Homo sapiens: one gene and its partner. The main gene of each other region encodes a partner of the protein of the gene in region 2 in a complex. Each region holds a gene or a part of one and is shown on either strand. Other genes may lie near its edges. The genes, in order: VPS51 and STX6.

The links.
Region 1: the proteins of STX6 (region 2) and VPS51 are in contact, whole or in part, in a crystal structure (PDB 4J2C), measured with the Homo sapiens proteins. Residues at the interface, in NP_005810.1 of Homo sapiens: Met3, Glu4, Asp5, Pro6, Phe7, Val9, Val10, Glu13, Trp59, Asp60, Asp63, Leu64, Glu66, Thr67, Ile70, Val71, Phe78, Arg88; in NP_037397.2 of Homo sapiens: Ala33, His34, Met36, Leu37, Leu39, Tyr40, Tyr41, Gly42, Leu43.

The regions. Positions count from the first base shown.
Region 1 is NC_000011.10:65,098,470-65,106,818, reverse strand, and holds part of VPS51 (vacuolar protein sorting-associated protein 51 homolog), read right to left. Parts: intron 1-8,349. UniProt on the Homo sapiens protein: Acts as a component of the GARP complex that is involved in retrograde transport from early and late endosomes to the trans-Golgi network (TGN).
Region 2 is NC_000001.11:181,012,362-181,020,710, forward strand, and holds part of STX6 (syntaxin-6), read right to left. Parts: intron 1-8,349. UniProt on the Homo sapiens protein: SNARE promoting movement of transport vesicles to target membranes. Targets endosomes to the trans-Golgi network, and may therefore function in retrograde trafficking.

The DNA of each region.
Region 1 (8,349 bases), on a different chromosome or scaffold from region 2:
CTTCCAATGTTCCTGACTGTTCACTGACGGCCTCAATTCAATTCCACCTATTCTTTTTTTTTTTTTTTGAGACTGAGTCTCGCTCTGTCGCCCAGACTGGAGTGCAGTGGCACGACCTCTGCTCACTGCAAACTCCAATTCCCAGGTTCACACCATTCTCCTGCCTCAGCCTCCCAAGTAGCTGGGACTACAGGTGCCTGCCACCACACCCAGCTAATTTTTTGTATTTTTAGTAGAGATGGAGTTTCACCATGTTAGCCAGGATGGTCTTGATCTCCTGACCTCATGATCCGCCCACCTTGGCCTCCCAAAGTGCTGGGATTACAGGCATGAGCCACCGCACCCGACGAGGTCTGATGGTTTTATAAGGGGCTCTCCCTGCTTCGCTTAACACTTCTCCTTCCTGCTGCCTTGTGAAGAAGATGCCTTGCTTCTCTTTCACCTTCTGCCATGATTGTAAGTTTCCTGAGGCCTCCCCAGCCATGCTGTGAACTGTGAGTCAATTAAACCTCTTTCCTTTATAAGTTACCTAGTCTCGGGCAGTTCTTTACAGCAGTATGAACCTGGATTAATATACCTAGTAATCAATCCATTACCAAGTCATGGAAGGTCTACCTGCAACATTTTCTTTGTAAGCCACTATCATCTCTTGTCCAACAACTGCCAACATTTCCCAACTAATTTCCCTAATTCCATTGAACATACCAACAATGTTCATAAAGAAAGGCGAAGAGGATAAGACAGAAATGTGTATCTGTAACAGGAGATATTTTGGTTTTGTTTTGTTTGAGAAAGAGTCTCACTCTGTCACCCAGGCTGGAGTGCAGTGGCGCGATCTCAGCTCTGGAGGCTCCTGGAGGGTGGCACGCCCGGGGAGGGCATGGAAACTCCATGCTCCTTCTCCTACACCTCGCCCTATGCACCTGCTCATCTGTACCCTTTGTAACATCCTTTGTAATAAACTGGTAAATGTGTTATCCTGAGCTCTGTGAGCCACTCCAGCAAACTGAGCCCAAAGAGGGAGTTATGGAAACCCCTACCTGGAGCCAGTTGGTCAGAAATTCTGGAGGCCTGAGGCCCTGACCTGCAGCTAGTGCCTGAAAGTGGGGAGGCAGATTTGGGACTGAACTAGTGCCTGAAGGGAGGCAGGCTTGGGGACTCAGCCCTCAACTCATGGAATCTGATGCTATCTCTGGGTAAATAGTGTTGGAATTAAATCAGAGGACACCCAGCGGGTGTCTGCTGCTTGGTGTGTGGGGAAGAAACCCAACACATTTGGTCACAGAACTCTTCTGTGGTCATGATTGTGGTGATGTGAGAGCATAGGAAGCACACAGTTTGCATTTTTCCCAAACAATGCCATAAAATATATACAAACCTTTCCATATGGTAGATCACAAAGAAAAAAACCTCATTCTTTTTTTTTTTTTGAGACAGGGTCTCCCTCCGTCGCCCAGGCTGCAGTGCAGTGGCGCGATCTCAGCTCACTGCAACCTCCACCTCCTGGGTTCAAGCGATTCTCCTGCCTCAGCCCCGAGTAGCTGGGATTACAGGCACGTGCCACCATGCCTGGCTAATTTTTGTACTTTTAGTAGAGAGGGTTTCACCATGTTGGCCAGACTGGTCTCTGACCTCAAGTGATCCACCCGCCTCGGCCTCCCAAAGTGCTGGGATTACAGGCGGGAGCCACCGTGCCCAGTCGAAAAAACCTCATTGTTAACCAATTATGAGGTCAGAAAAGGAAATCAAAACTGAAATTGCAGCATGGGTAAAATACCAAGAAAACACTAAATTGGTAAGGGCTTGGTGAATTCTATGGATGAAATGGATAATTTGCTACAAAAATAGGATTTACCAAAATGGATTGCAAAAAACAAGAAAACAGAAACAGAAAAACTAGAGAATGTTGTGAAAGAAAGGTCCTACTCCCCTTTCCCCTCCACACAAAGGCATCTGGCCCAGATGTCCAGGGGTGTTGCGGCGGCTTGAAGGACAGCGCCTTCCAATTCTCTGTGTAAACACTGCCCCAGCAGAGAAACGAGAACAGCTCTCACACAAACTTGATGGAACAAACATAACACTGTTATGAAAACATAACAGAAATACCTCACATATACACATTCATATCTCTTATGAATGGAGATGCAAGGATGAATTAAATAAACAAATGGAGATGCACAAATAAGCAAACAAAATCCAGCAGCATATTAAAATAATAATTGATAAACACAAAAGGGTTTTTGTTTCATGAATGCCAGGATGACTCAAAATTAGAGGATCTCATAATAATTTGCCATGTTAATAGATATTTCAACATCTATTCTTGATTTTTAAAAAACTCTCAATAACATATGAGCAGCTAAATATTTCCCTGACCTCCAAAACTCAGTATCATGTTTACCGAGGCAGTGCTAGAAGCACTCCAATTAAAGTCAAAACATGGCAAGGACAACCTTGATTGCCAATGTTATCTACATTGTTCTGGGGCATTAGCCAACTCAGCTAGAGTCACGAGATGTATTATGGAGATACACAAATTGGAAAGGAGGGAGAAGTATCACTATTTGCAGATGATATAATCAAATAAATAGGCCAGCCACGGTAGCTCATGCCTGTAATCCCAGCACTTTGGGAGGCCGAGGCAGGCAGATCACTTGACGTCAGGAGTTTGAGACCAGCCTGGCCAACATGGTAAAACCCTGTCTCTAGTAAAAATACAAAAAGTAGTTGGGCGTGGTGGCAGGTGCCTGTAATCCTAGCTACTGGGAAGGCTGAGGCAGGAGAATCGCTTGAACCCTGGAGGCACAAGTTGTAGTGAGCTGAGATTGTGCCACTGCACTCTAACCTGAGTAATAGAGCAACACTCTGTCTCAAATAATAATAATTGAATAAATAGAAAGCCCTAAAAAAAAAAAACAAAAAAAAACACCCTGTAAACGTTACTATAAACAATAAGAGATACCACTTTTCACTTCTCAGATTGTCAAAGATTGAAAGAGGTATTCTCTTCTTTGCTGGTGGTTATGCAAACTGATCAGCATTTACAAAGAAGAATCTGGAAATATCTAACTGCAATCACTTGTGAGCCTTCACACACCCACACCTGGTCTGTGTGTGGCTCTGGGACTGTAGGAATGTTCTCCAAGCAACACTGGGAATCTACCCCACTTGGGGAGACAGCTGGAAGGGTGAGTAAGGAGAAAAGCATTGATGTCAATTTGACAAGAAACAAACAGAAACAAAAAATGCAGGAAAAAAATATTAGAGAAAATATAAGAGAAAGAACTGTCTGAGACAAAGAATCTACAGGGCTCACATCTGTAGAGCTATTAAGGGATTTTTTAAAAAATTACATGGAAAGGTAGATTACGTATCAGCAAAATGGACTTTTCATTTTAACAACACAGTCCACAAGAAAGGATCATTTAGCCCTCTTAGAGATGATTTCATAGAAAGGAAGGTTACTAAGGAATAAAATCACATGATGTGAAACATCTATATTACTTTTGGGACCATAGGGACCATTGCCTGCATTTTGTTGGGGAAATCATAATTATTTTGAGTTTCTTTGCTTGAGATAGGGTCTTGCTCTGTCTACAGGCATGGTGATGCACACTTATAATCCCAGCTACTCAGGAGGCTAAGGCAGGAGAATCACCTTAACTGGGGAGGCGGAGGTTACAGTGAGCCAAGATGGCATGCAGTGGTGCAAACACAGCTTACTGCAGCCTTGAACTCTGGGGCTCAAGTGATCCTCCTACCTTAGCTTCTGAAGTAGCTGGGACTACACACAAGCGCCATCACACCCGGCTAATTTTTTAATTTTTGTTTAAATTTTGTGTAGAGATGGGGTCTCTCTATGTTGCCCAGGCTGGTCTCAAACTTCTGGGCTCAAGCAATGCTCCCACTTCAGCCTCCCAAAGTGCTGGGAGCACAGGAGTGAGCCACTGTGCCTGGCAAGAAAATTTTTCTTGCCAATTCATAGATGGTGAACTAAAGGACATAGCAAAGGCAGCGCTATGCAGTGAAAAACAATAAAAGCAGAGCCGAGGCTGAGGTTCGTAAAGGGATCATGGGCTACTGATCTAAGGGAGACAGACAGAGGCTTGGCAGTTGATGAGGCATTTGGTCTTCACCCAGTGAATTACTGGTTTTGTTTACAGGCCATGTGACACAATCTCCTTCCAGGTCTGCCAAAAGCTACCATGAAAAGAGCAGACTCTTTTGGTAGTGGGTGTTTGAGCCCATGACACTTAGGGGCTACCTCAAGAAGGAAGCTTGAATCCAACTTCTAAAGGGTAAAATCCAAACACTAAGTTGTTAGGAAAATAGAGTAAAAGAAAACCCAACAGTGCTGTGTGCTGTCATTGTCGCTGCCTTCCCAGCCATGGAGCCATTACACTGGAGATAAAAGTTGTACCATATCCAAAAACAACAGTGAAAGCATCCACACCATTCAGTCACAAAGACTACACTGTTTATCTTTGCATTTCAAGCTTGTTAAGAAAAGCAGGCTGGGCACAGTGGCTCACGCCTGTAACCCCAGCACTTTGGGAGGCCAAGGCAGGTGGATCACCTGAGGTCACCTGCCTGACCAACATGGTGAAATCCCGTCTCTACTGAAAATACAATAATTAGCCAAGTGTGGTGGCAGGTGCCTGTAATCCCAGGTACTTGGAAGCCTAAGACAGGAGAATCACTTGAACCCCGGAGGCGGAGGTTGCAGTGAGCCGATTGGGCCACTGCACTCTAGCCTGGATGACAGAGCAAGACTCTGTCTCAAAAAAAAAAAAAAAAAAAAGCTTGTTAAGAAAAGCAGTTTGTAACCAGGGAGAGTGAAAGCCATCTGGATGCGAGGATGTTGGCTACCTTGGGAGGGGACTGGGTGGTAACTGGTAGGAGGCTCAGGGGGCTTTGCTGGTTATGCTGTTTCCCGACCTGGATGCTGATTATGTGACTGTGCTCCCTTTGTGAAATCCATGGAGCTGTCCACTTATGTGCACTTTTCTGTATGTCTGTTAATTTTCTTTTTTTTTTTTTTTTTTTTTTTTTTTTTGAGACAAGGTCTGGCTCTGTCACCCAGGCTGGAGTGCAGTGACACAATCTTGGCTTACTGCAACCTCTGCCTCCCAGGTACAAGCCTTCCACCTCAGCTTCCTGAGCAGCTCGGACTACAGGGACACAACACCACACCCAGCTAATTTTTGTATTTTTTGTAGAGACAGGTATAACCTGTTGGCCAGGATGGTCTCGAACTCCTGAGCTCAAGCAATCTGCCTGCCTCTGCCTCACAAAGTGTTGGGATTATAGGTATGAGCCATAATCCCACCTGGGCTCTGTTAATTTTCAGTGAAATGTACTGTCAAAGACTGCTTTGTCTTTGCCTAGAGAAAAGAATTAGGAGAGGCTTTTCCCTGTATAATGTTTGAGATCTTTCTAATTTTGACACAAGTAAATGCATTATTACATAATGAAACTCAATGTCTAGGTGAGAGGTTGGCAAACTACAGCCTGCAGGCCAAATCTGGCTCAATGCCTGGTTTTCTTTTTAATTGGGATATAATTGACATACCAATTCAGTGGTTTTTAATATGTTTAATATATTCACAAGGTTGTACAACCAACCTCACTACGTAATTCCAGAACATTTCATCATCCCCTAAAGAAACCCTGTAACCCTTGGCAGTCATTCCTTATTCCCCCACTCCTAGAACTTGGCAACCATTAATCTAGTTTCTGTCTCTATGGATTTGTCTATTCGCTACAGAATACATTTAACAGAAATGGAATCATAGGCATATGAAACATTAGCATGTTTCCAAGGTTAATCTATGTTGTAGCCTGTGTCAGTATGTTATATCTATTTTTATGGCTGAATAATATTCCACTGTGTGGATATTTGTTTATATTCATTCAATTGATGGCCATTTGGATTGCTTCCACCTTGTGGCTATTATAAAAAGTGCTGCTATTGGCCAGGCATGGTGGCTCTTGCCTGTAATCCCAGTACTTTGGGAAGCCGAGGCAAGCGGATCACTTGAGGTCAGGAGTTCAAGACCAGCCTGGCCAACAAGGTGGAATCCCGTCTCTAGTAAATATACAAAAAATAAAAATAAAAAAATTAGGCGGGTGTGATGGTGCACACCTATAATCCCAGCTACTCAGGAGGCTGAGGCAGGAGAATCGCTTGAACTGGGGAGGCGGAGGTTACAGTGAGCCAAGATGGCACCACTGCACTCTAGCCTGGGTGACAGAGCTAGACTCCATCTCAAAAAAAAAAAAAAAAAAAAAAACACTGCTATGAACACTTGTGTACATGTTTTTATGTGAACATGTTTTCAATTCTCTTTGGTATATTCCTAGGAGTAAAATTGCCGATCATATGGTAATCTTGTGTGTGGTTTTGAAGAATGGTCAAACTGTCTTCCACACTGGGTGCAGCATTTTGTGGTTTGGATTTGCATTTCCCTAAGACCTAATGATGCTGAGCATATTTATATGTGCTTTTCGGCCACTTGTATGTTTTCTCTGGAGAAGTGTCTATTCAAATCCTTTGCCCATTTTAAATTAGGGTTATTTGTCTTTTTAGCCCTGAGCTAAAAAACGTTCTTTTTATGTTCTGAACACTAGATTTTTATTAGATAACTAACTTGCAAATATTTTCTCCCATTCTGTGGGCTGTCCTTTTATTATTATTTATTATTATTATTATTTTTGAGACGGAGTCTCGCTCTGTTGCCCAGGCTGGAGTGCAGTGGCGCGATCTCGACTCACTGCAACCTCCGCCTCCTGGGTTCAAGCGATTCTCCTGCCTCAGCCTCCTGAGTAGCTGGGACTACAGATGCCTGCCACCATGCCTGACTAATTTTTGTATTTTTAGTAGAGATGGGGTTTCACCATATTGGCCAGCCTGGTCTCAAATGCCTGACCTCAGATGATCCACCCGTCTCGGCCTCTCAGAGTGCTAAGATTATAGGCATAAGCCACCGCACCTGGCCTTTTTATTTATTTATTTATTTTTTGAGACTAGGTCTTGCTCTGTCACCCAGGCTAGAGTGCAATGGTGAGATTATAGCTCACTGCAATCTCCAGCTCCTGGGCTCATGTGATCCACCCACCTTAGCCTCCCCAAGTAGCTGGGTTTATTCTAACAAGTGTGTGCCACCATACCCAGCTATTTTTTTTTTTCTAGATATCGGGTCTCACTATGTTGCACAGGCTGGTCTCAAACTCCTGGGCTCAAGTGATCCTCCCACCTCAGCCTTCCAAAGTGCAGGGATTACAGGCATGAGCCACTGTGCTCAGCCCCATCCATTCCTGCCAGTGCAGCTGGAGGAATCTATTCAAACCAGAAATCTGAGCACATCACTCATTTGTTTTAGCTCTCTGTGGATAAAAGCCAAATCCCTAATACATTCTGGAAGGTTTCTAGTTAAACTGCACATCTACTATCTGCCTGGCTCTGCCCACATTCTGCTTCCCCTCCTGCTACCATAGATGAGCTCCCGGCCCTTTGCTGAGGCCGATGCCTCCATCCCTGCTCTGTTCCACCCCCCTCCTTCCTGAGGACCTAGTTCCTTTCTCATTTTTCTCTCTCTCTTGCCCAATCAACACACACTCCATGCTACATTACTTTCCTGAGTGTCTCGCCCAAGTCTATCAAATCTATGTCTTGAAACACCTTCCTCACGCAACCTCCACCTCCTGGGTTCAAGCAATTCTCCTGCCTCAGCCTCATGAGTAGCTTGGACTACAGGCATGCACCACCTTGCCCAGCTAATTTTTGTATTTTTAGTAGAGACAGGGTTTCACCATGTTGGCCAGGCTGGTCTTGAACTCCTAGCCTCAAGTGATCCACCCACCTCAGCCTCCCAAAGTGCTGGGATCACGGGTGAGAACCCCATGCCCGGCCCCTCACTTAAGCTTCTAAGACATCAATGCTCCTGGTTATCCTCACACTTTTCCAAACGTTTGTTCCTTTTGTGGGATGTACAAAAAGAGCTAAGTCTCAAAATATTATTATACACATTCCAACAAATGGAAAATGTAATCTTATTAAATTCCTGTGAGAAATATCCCAGCACAGAAACTATGATTTCTTGCCATTTTGATGCTGGTATTAGCTAACAGAAAGGTGCCTACTCATGGAATCTGCTTCAAATCAGATAAAAGAACAATGTGTATAGGTTACCACACCCACCACTGTGACACGAGAGTAAGACATCAGAATGCAACCCCACAGATGCTCCCAGAACATTCCACAGGCTGCAGGTAAACCCTTTGGATCTGGCTCCTGGACTTACTACACGTGGGTGTACAATTACTACAAAAGTCTGAGTAGTACATCTC
Region 2 (8,349 bases):
ACAGGTAGCATTTCGTAGATACCAAGAGCCAGTGTTGGCAATTCTAGGGATGTGGCTTTTCCTCCCTGCTGTCTACAAAACAGCCCATCAAAATCATGGAACCTGTCATCTTCTCAAGGATTAAACTCCCTACAGACACCAGAATGAAGGCTCTTCATGGCAAGTCACCACAATGCCCACAGGACCACTTGCAATGCAGAACTTTCCCAGTAAGTAGCTGTCAAAAATGGAAACACTGCCCACATCTTTGAAGAATGCATCTTTTGGGAAAAACAAAATAAAGTCATCTGAGCATTCAGATTCTTCCATTCTTTTTTTTTTTTTTTTTTTGAGATGGAATTTCACTCTTGTTGCCCTGGCTGGAGTACAATGGCACAATCTCAGCTCACCACAACCTCCGCCTCCCAGGTTCAAGCAATTACCCCGCTTCAGCCTCCTGAGTAGCTGGGATTACAGGCATGCACCACCACGCCCGGCTAATTTTGTATTTTTAGTAGAGACGGGGTTTCTCCATGTTGGTCAGGCTGGTCTCAAACTCCTGACTTCAGGTGATCCACCCACATTGACCTCCCAAAGTATTGGTATTACAGGCATGAGCCACCGCGCCCAGCCAATTCTTCCATTCTTCATAAATAAAAAGTTGATTCTGGCAAACCAACCTCATTTATTTTTGAAGTTAGCCCAACATTGATCCCTCGTCAGATAGTTGAGCCTCTTCCATACAACCTCCCAATATGGTACATCACCAAACTAGCCTCTGGGGCCACAAGTAATACATTCAGTCCAAATACAGTCCAAAAAAAAAAAAAATCACAAAGTTTTCTTACTTGCATCTAACCAAGTTTGCCAAGTAAAATGAGAAGAAAGAGTATCTCAGCCATTAGGGAGCTTTGTTCCCCAGTATTTGTCATTCAGTTGTACCAACAAATTGCGTAAGTGTAGCCACAACCCCCATCATCCTTTTTCCTGTTGTGGTTGAGACAGGGTCTCACTGTCAACCAGGCTGGAGTGCAGTGGTGCAATCACAGCTCACTGTAATCTCGAATTCCTGGGTTCAAAGGATTCTTCCGTCTCAGCCTCCCAAGTTGCTAGGACTACAGGTGCACACTACCACGCCAAGCTAATTTTTTTTATTTATTGTAGAAACAGGGTCTCGCTGTTGCCCAGGCTGATCTCAAACTCCTGGCCTCAAGTGATCCTCCTGCCTTGGCCTCCCCCTTCATCGTTTTGATTTATCCTTTCTTCTTTGCCCATGCTGGCAGACTCTGAATTGGCATGTTCTAGTTATCGTGGTTGTTTAACAATGACCCCAAAATTTAGTGGTGTAAAACAACCATTTATCATGTCATGGAGTCTGTAGATCAGGAATCAGACACAGCAGAGCTGACTTGTCCCTGTTCCACAATGTCTGGGACCTCAGCTGAAAATATTAAACAGGCTGGGGCTGTAAAGGCATCACATCTCTCTATCTCTCCACAGTCTGCACACATGCTCTAACAGAGTGGCTTCAATGTAACTGGACTTGTTACATGTTAGCTCAGGGTAGCCTATACTTGTGTTCCAAGATGAAAGATGCAGATGGAAGGTATAGTGGTTGTCTTTTATGACTTAAGCTTCAGGAGTCAAGCAGCGTCACTTCTGCTTCAATCTGCTAGTCAAAGCAGTTTATAAAGGTCTGCCCAGGTTCAAAGGAAGGGAATACAAACTCCAGTTTGATAAAAGAATGCCAGCTTCACAATTTAATAAAAACAAACAGCCGGGCGTGGTGGCTCACGCCTGTAATCCCAGCACTTTGGGAAGCCGAGGTGGGTGGATCACCAGGTCAGGAGTTCGAGACCAGCCTGGCCAATACAGTCAAACCGTCTCTACTAAAAATACAAAAATTAGCCGGGTGTGGTGGCATGCACCTGTAAACCCAGCTACTCAGAAGGCTGAGGCAGAAGAATCGCTTGAACCCAGGAGGCGAAGGTTGCAGTAAGCCGAGATTGCACCACTGCACTCCAGCTTGGGAGACAGAGCAAGACTCCATCTCAAAAAAAAAAAAGAAAAAAAAAGAAAGAAAAGCAACACAGGACAGAACATTTATTGGTGCAGCCATCAATGGAAAAAATACAATCTGCCACAACTCTTTTATCTGGGACAGCACCTACTCTGCAAGTCTTTACAGAGGGATCCCCATTTCATCAATACAGTAAAAGAGGCTAGTCAAGGCTGAAAGTTTCCATTCTAGTAATGAAACATGAAAAATTCAGGTTGAGTGAGCCTCTGCAACACATCAGACTCCCACTCCTCACTCTTCTCCAACTGGTTCCTGCCCCATACCCCACAAACCTGGTTTCACCACTCATCTCTCCAGAAAGAGAGGAACTCTTTTTATTGCTTGACTTCTACATTCACATCGTTTGTATTTGAAAGGAAACACATGCACACCCTTTACTTGACTTTATTGCCATTTCCAAATTCAACCACACTGTGACATATTTTGTAATTACTCTTGTGAAAATGAAACATCATTTTTACTCAGTTACCTACAATTATATACAATTTTTGACCCTAACTTACTGCTGCTTCCACAACTCCACCAATGACACTGCAGGTCAAAGTCACGAGTGAATTTAACTTGTCCTCATTTTTGGTGCACTTGACACTATGGCCCATTATATCTATTTGCTTGAAACTCTCACTTTCTCTGTCTCTGTGACATTGTGCTGTTCTAGTTTTCTACCAGTTTTCTCCTTCCTCTTCCTCCACTGGATCCCAATGTTTCTCAGTACTCTTTGTGGCCTCTATGTGCTCATCAGCATTCACAAGTTCAAAGCACCCCTCTTAAGCTGATGACTCCCCCACTATACTTCCAACCCTAACCACTCAGCCAGGCTTAATTCCTATATTTTTAGCTGCCTATAGGATCATTCCATTTGCCTAAAACCAAATTAATCATATCCTCCCTACAAAACATAATGTATTCAAAACAAACAAAATAGAAAAATCTGCTTCCCTTTCTAGCTTCCTCATTTTAGCCAATAGTGCCACCATTTTCCAAGTTTCAACACTTGTCTAGACAAGAGTCATTTTTGACTCCTCCTCCTCCTTACCTTGCACAACCTCTACTTAAATCCAATCACTGAATTTTCAGATCTGGAAAGAACTTTCAAGATAATCTAGTTTGTGCTCCTTAAACATAAATAAGAGACCTTGGGGCTCAGACATATTGGCTGCTTGCCTCAAGTTCTTCCAACCCTGATTATAAGACACTTTCTATTACCAAGACTTATTTAATTGCATTTTTCCAAAACTTCCACACAAATCTTTTTTTTTTTTTTTGAGAGGGAGTTTTGCACTGTCACCAGGGCTGGAGTGCAGTGGCGTGATCTCAGCTCACTGCAAAAGAGGGTTCAAGCAATTCTCCTGCCTCAGCCTCCCAAGTAGCTGGGACTACAGGTGCCCACCACCACACCCAGCTAATTTTTTGTATCTTTGGTAGAGATGGGGTTTCACCATGTTGGCCAGGCTGGTCTCGAATTCCTGACCTCATGATTCGCCTGCCTTGGCCTCCCAAAGTGCTGGGATTACAGGCATGAGCCATCGCACCTGGCCCACAAATCTGTTTTCTTTGTAGAATCAGAAGATCTGGGTTTGAACCCTTAAAAGCTGACTATAAGCAAGTGAATAGTAACTGCTAGTTTAAAAACTGCCTCCTGATTTAGAATTTATGATAGAAATCAGATTAAATTTAAACTCCTCAGGCAGGTATTCAAACCCTCTCCCACTCCTCCTCCTAACCCAAACTGGCTGACTTTAGTATCAAGCATGGTTTCTCACTGAACAAATTCTGTTTCAGTTGGCAGGTCTTCTTCCCATCTTTATCTTTCTCATTCCTGGTTCTTGACTTCCACTCAGTTGTTTCCCCAGCCTAGAAGAGCCTTACACCTCAGCAGACACTTCCTTTAAGGCCCAGATTGACCAGCATTCCCAGCATGGGTCTTTCTTTTTTTTTCAATCTCCACAGCATCTCAACTCTACTGCAAAATCTTACACAATATATCTTTCACTTATCTGCATAGTGTTCTCCAAACTAAGGAGCTAAATAATATTAAACACTCAAATTTATAATAAAGGCTTGCAAATTTGTTCTTACAACGAAACACTGGATTCTGCTTTTTAGAAAGTATTAAATTTGATTTACATTCAATTTTACTAGGCCAAAATTAACAAACAAGGGTTATTTTTTTCACAGTGACTATACCAATACAGTTTTTCAACAGTGAATAGAATGCGTGATGCCCTCGAGGAGCTCATAATCTAGTGTTAATAAAGCTAGATATGCAGACAGAGAAGGTTAAAGAACACAACATAACATATACCATCTTACTCATCAGCTTACTTATGTCATTATTTCAACATCAATCCACAGCCAAAAACCTGGAAATAAAACTGTTATCATGCTGGGTGCGGTGGCTCATGCCTGTAATCCAAGCACTTTGGGAGGCCGAGGCGGGCAGATCACCTGAGGTCAGGAGTTCAAGACCAGCCTGGTAAACACAGTGAAACCCTGTCTCTACTAAAAATACAAAAACTATCCGGGCGTGATGGCGGGCTACTCGGGAGGCAGAGGCAGGGAGAAGTGCTTGAACCCGGGAGGCGGAGGTTGCAGTGAGCCAAGACGCGCCACTGCACTCCAGCCTGGGTGACAGAATGAGACTCTGTCTCAAAAACAAACAAACAAACAAAAAAACCATCCTCGGCTGGGCGCAGTGGCTCATGCCTGTAATCCCAGCACTTTGGGAGGCCGAGGTGGGAGGATCACGAGGTCAGGAGATCGAGACCATCCTGGCTAACACAGTGAAACCCCGTATCTACTGAAAATACAAAAAAAAAAAAATTAGCTGGGCGTGGTGGCGGGCACCTGTAGTCCCAGCTACTCAGGAGGCTGAGGCAGGAGAATGGCGTGAACCCGGGAGGCGGAGCTTGCAGTGAGCCGAGATCGCGCCACTGCACTCCAGCCTGGGCAACAGAGTGAGACTCCGTCTCAAAAAAACAAACAAACAAACAAACAAAAAACTATCCTCATCAGACACACAAAACCTCCACAGCAATAAAATAGCAAAGAGCCATGGTATTTGTACCTTTTATCCACAGGAGTGGCTCACTTATACTCTGTCTCCACATGCTCAGTTACATGGTTTTCTTCAGGGTTTGTCTGATTAGAAGGTGCAAATTCTAAAAGGAGGCTAATTCTAAAAACTTGCCAACAAGGGAGGAAAAAAACTACAGAACTAAACAATCAAAATGGGTTCACTCAACAAACACTGAGTACATCCTTACTGAATACAAAGATGAAGACTACAAGATTTAAATATGATATTTTCACCCGGAGATTAGTAAAGATTTTTTTAATGAAAATCCCAGTACTGGAATCAAGGGAATTGGGTCCCTCAAACACTTTGAGGGGCAAGGGGGAATATTCTGGAGGACAACGTGGTAGTATGCATCAAACGCTTTGCTGTGCCTGCCCTCTGAATTAGCAATTATGCTCCAGGAATACAGGCTATGAAAATCAGAAGCAGCAATACAGACCTATGACAAGTAGGCTTATCACCACATTAATTGTAGTGTGATCATAAATATAATGTATCTTCCAGGATGAACATTTATATGACAAAATACAATGCAGTCATTAAAAGCTGCCACCCAGAAGTCTGAAGGATATAAAGAAATACAGATGAAAACGTCATAAAACAGGCCAGGCGCGGTGGCTCATGCCTATAATCCCAACACTTTGGGAAGCCAAGGTGTGTGGATCACCTGAGGTCAAAGTTCAAGACCAGCCTGGCTAACAGGGTGAAATGCCATCTCTACTAAAAATACAAAATTAGCCAGGCATAGTGGCGCACATTGGTAGTCCCAGCTACTTGGGAGGGTGTGGCAGGAGAATCGCTTGAACCCAAGAGGTAGAGGTTGCAGTGAGCTGAGATCACGCCATCGCCATTGCACTCCAGCCTGGGCGACAGAGTAAGACTCTGTCCCAAAAAAAAAAAAAAAAAAAAAAAAAAGAAAAGAAAAAGTGATAAAACCATATATAACGTATAATCCCAATTTTTAAAATGACCATATTATATATATAATATATATTTGTAATAAATATATAAATCCTGGCCCTTCTACGTACAAGCTTATAAAGTTGAAGTTTTTTACTAAGTTTCATTTTCCTTTTTGTGAAATGATGACAATAATAATACCTACTTCATAAGGATAAAAGAGCAATCCCTGTTGTGGGATTCTGTTCCGAACAGGACATTGACAATGTCAAAACCTCCCAAAAGGAGCTTCAAACTTCCAAGCACTAACCACTGCATGTATAAGTTACAACAGCTTTCTAACTGGTCTCCTTTTTCATCTTTCCTCACACTGATGCATCCAACACTACCACCAAATCAATATTCCTAAAATCCTAATTTCATGTCATTTCCTTGCTTTAAAAATCTGTAATGGCCTCAAGATGAGATTCTCCTTAGGCCAACATAACTTGACCCTATTTTACCTGCACTGGGAAGTATTGACAGTAGTGTGAAATCAGGTTGTTCTAATTTGAAGCCTGAGTACACCACTTATTAGCTGTGTGACCCTAGGCAAGTAAGTTAACCCCTCTAACACTTCCTCAGCTTCTCATCTCTAAAATGTGGCTAGTATTCATCATATGGGTGTTTTTACAGAGTGAAAATTCATATAAAGTGCTTACTTAGCACTTTACATGTATGCCTGGCACTGGAGATGCATCCTTTAAATGTGAGCTGTTACTACTTCCCTAAACTGTCTACTCCACCTGGGCTGCTCTTCCAGATCATTTCTAACACACATTGCCCAACTTAGGCCTTTGGCTGGTGGTGTTCTCACCCATGAGGCACCATTCCATCACAATCACCACCATCAACAAAGAGTATGTGTTCAACATTTACACTATATATTCAAGGTGTAGGCTGGAAATACAGAGGAAAAAAAAAAAAAAAACAGTCCCAAACCTCAGAGCTCATAGTCTAATAATGAAAGAGAGACAGAGGAAGAGGTCCAATAATTAGGGGTGACAAAGGAAGCACTTCCTGGAGGCAAGGGAGATGCTTACACTGACTCCAGAAAGCTGCGTGGGTGAATCAGGCAGTGTGGGTGCATGTAGAGTAAGAGCATCCAGTACAGCAATCACAGTCACTGTATTGAGTCTGGCACTGCTGGAGTACTAAGGCTAAGGGAGAGCAGAGGCTAGATCAGTGAGGTCAGGAAGTGTTGGCACTTTATTCTGCAGGCCAGCAGCAGCCACTGAATAATATTAAGTAGGGTACACCTGTCTAGGACTCTAGAAAAGCTTACACTGTGCTGTCCAACACGGAAGCCACATACAACTACTGACTGGAAATGTGGCTAGTGTGACAGAAATTAAATTTTAATTAATGTAAACTTGGTAACTGATAGCAATTCAGTTATCAAAAACCTTTTATGTATGTTTGGAACAATTAAAGAGTATGTAGGCCGGGCGCGGTGGCTCACGCCTGTAATCACAGCACTTTGGGAGGCCGAGACAGGTGGATCACAAGGTCAGGAGATCGAGACCATCCTGGCTAACATGGTGAAACCCCGTCTCTACTAAAAAATACAAAAAATTAGCCGGGCGTGGTGGCGGGTGCCCTGCCCATAGTCCTAAAAATACAAAAATTAGCCAGGTGAGGTGGTACACACCTATAGTCCCAGCTACTCAGGAGGCTGAGGTGCAAGAATCGCTTGAACCTGGGAGGCAGAGGTTGCAGTGAGCCGTGATTGCACCACTGCACTCCAGTCTGGGCAACAGAACAAGACTCTGTCTCAAAAAAAAAAAATGTATTTAATGAACTTTAAATACAGATCAATTATTTCTGATGAAAATTTAATGTCCAAATTTAAATGTGCAGTAAGTGTAAAATATGTATCAGATTTAGAAGACTTAGTACAAAAGTAAAATATCTCATCAATAATCTTTAATCACATGTTGAATATTTTGAATGTATTAGAGATTACATTAGAATTAATTTCACCTGTTCCTTTATATTTTACTGCGGCTACTAGAAAATGTAAAATGACATACATGGCTGGCATTATACTTCTATTGGACAGCAATGATCCAATAGATCCCAGGACAGCTGAAAGAGGAAATGAGACCAGAAGCAGGAAGAACAATTAAAAAGACTCTGATAAGCATCCAGGTAAGAGAGACAGGCCTGATTATCTAAATTCTGCCCATCTTCAAAACCTAATTCAAGATACACTACTGCCTCCAAAAGCTCTCCTAATCCTAACAATTCCCAAGGAGTTACCTTTCTCTGA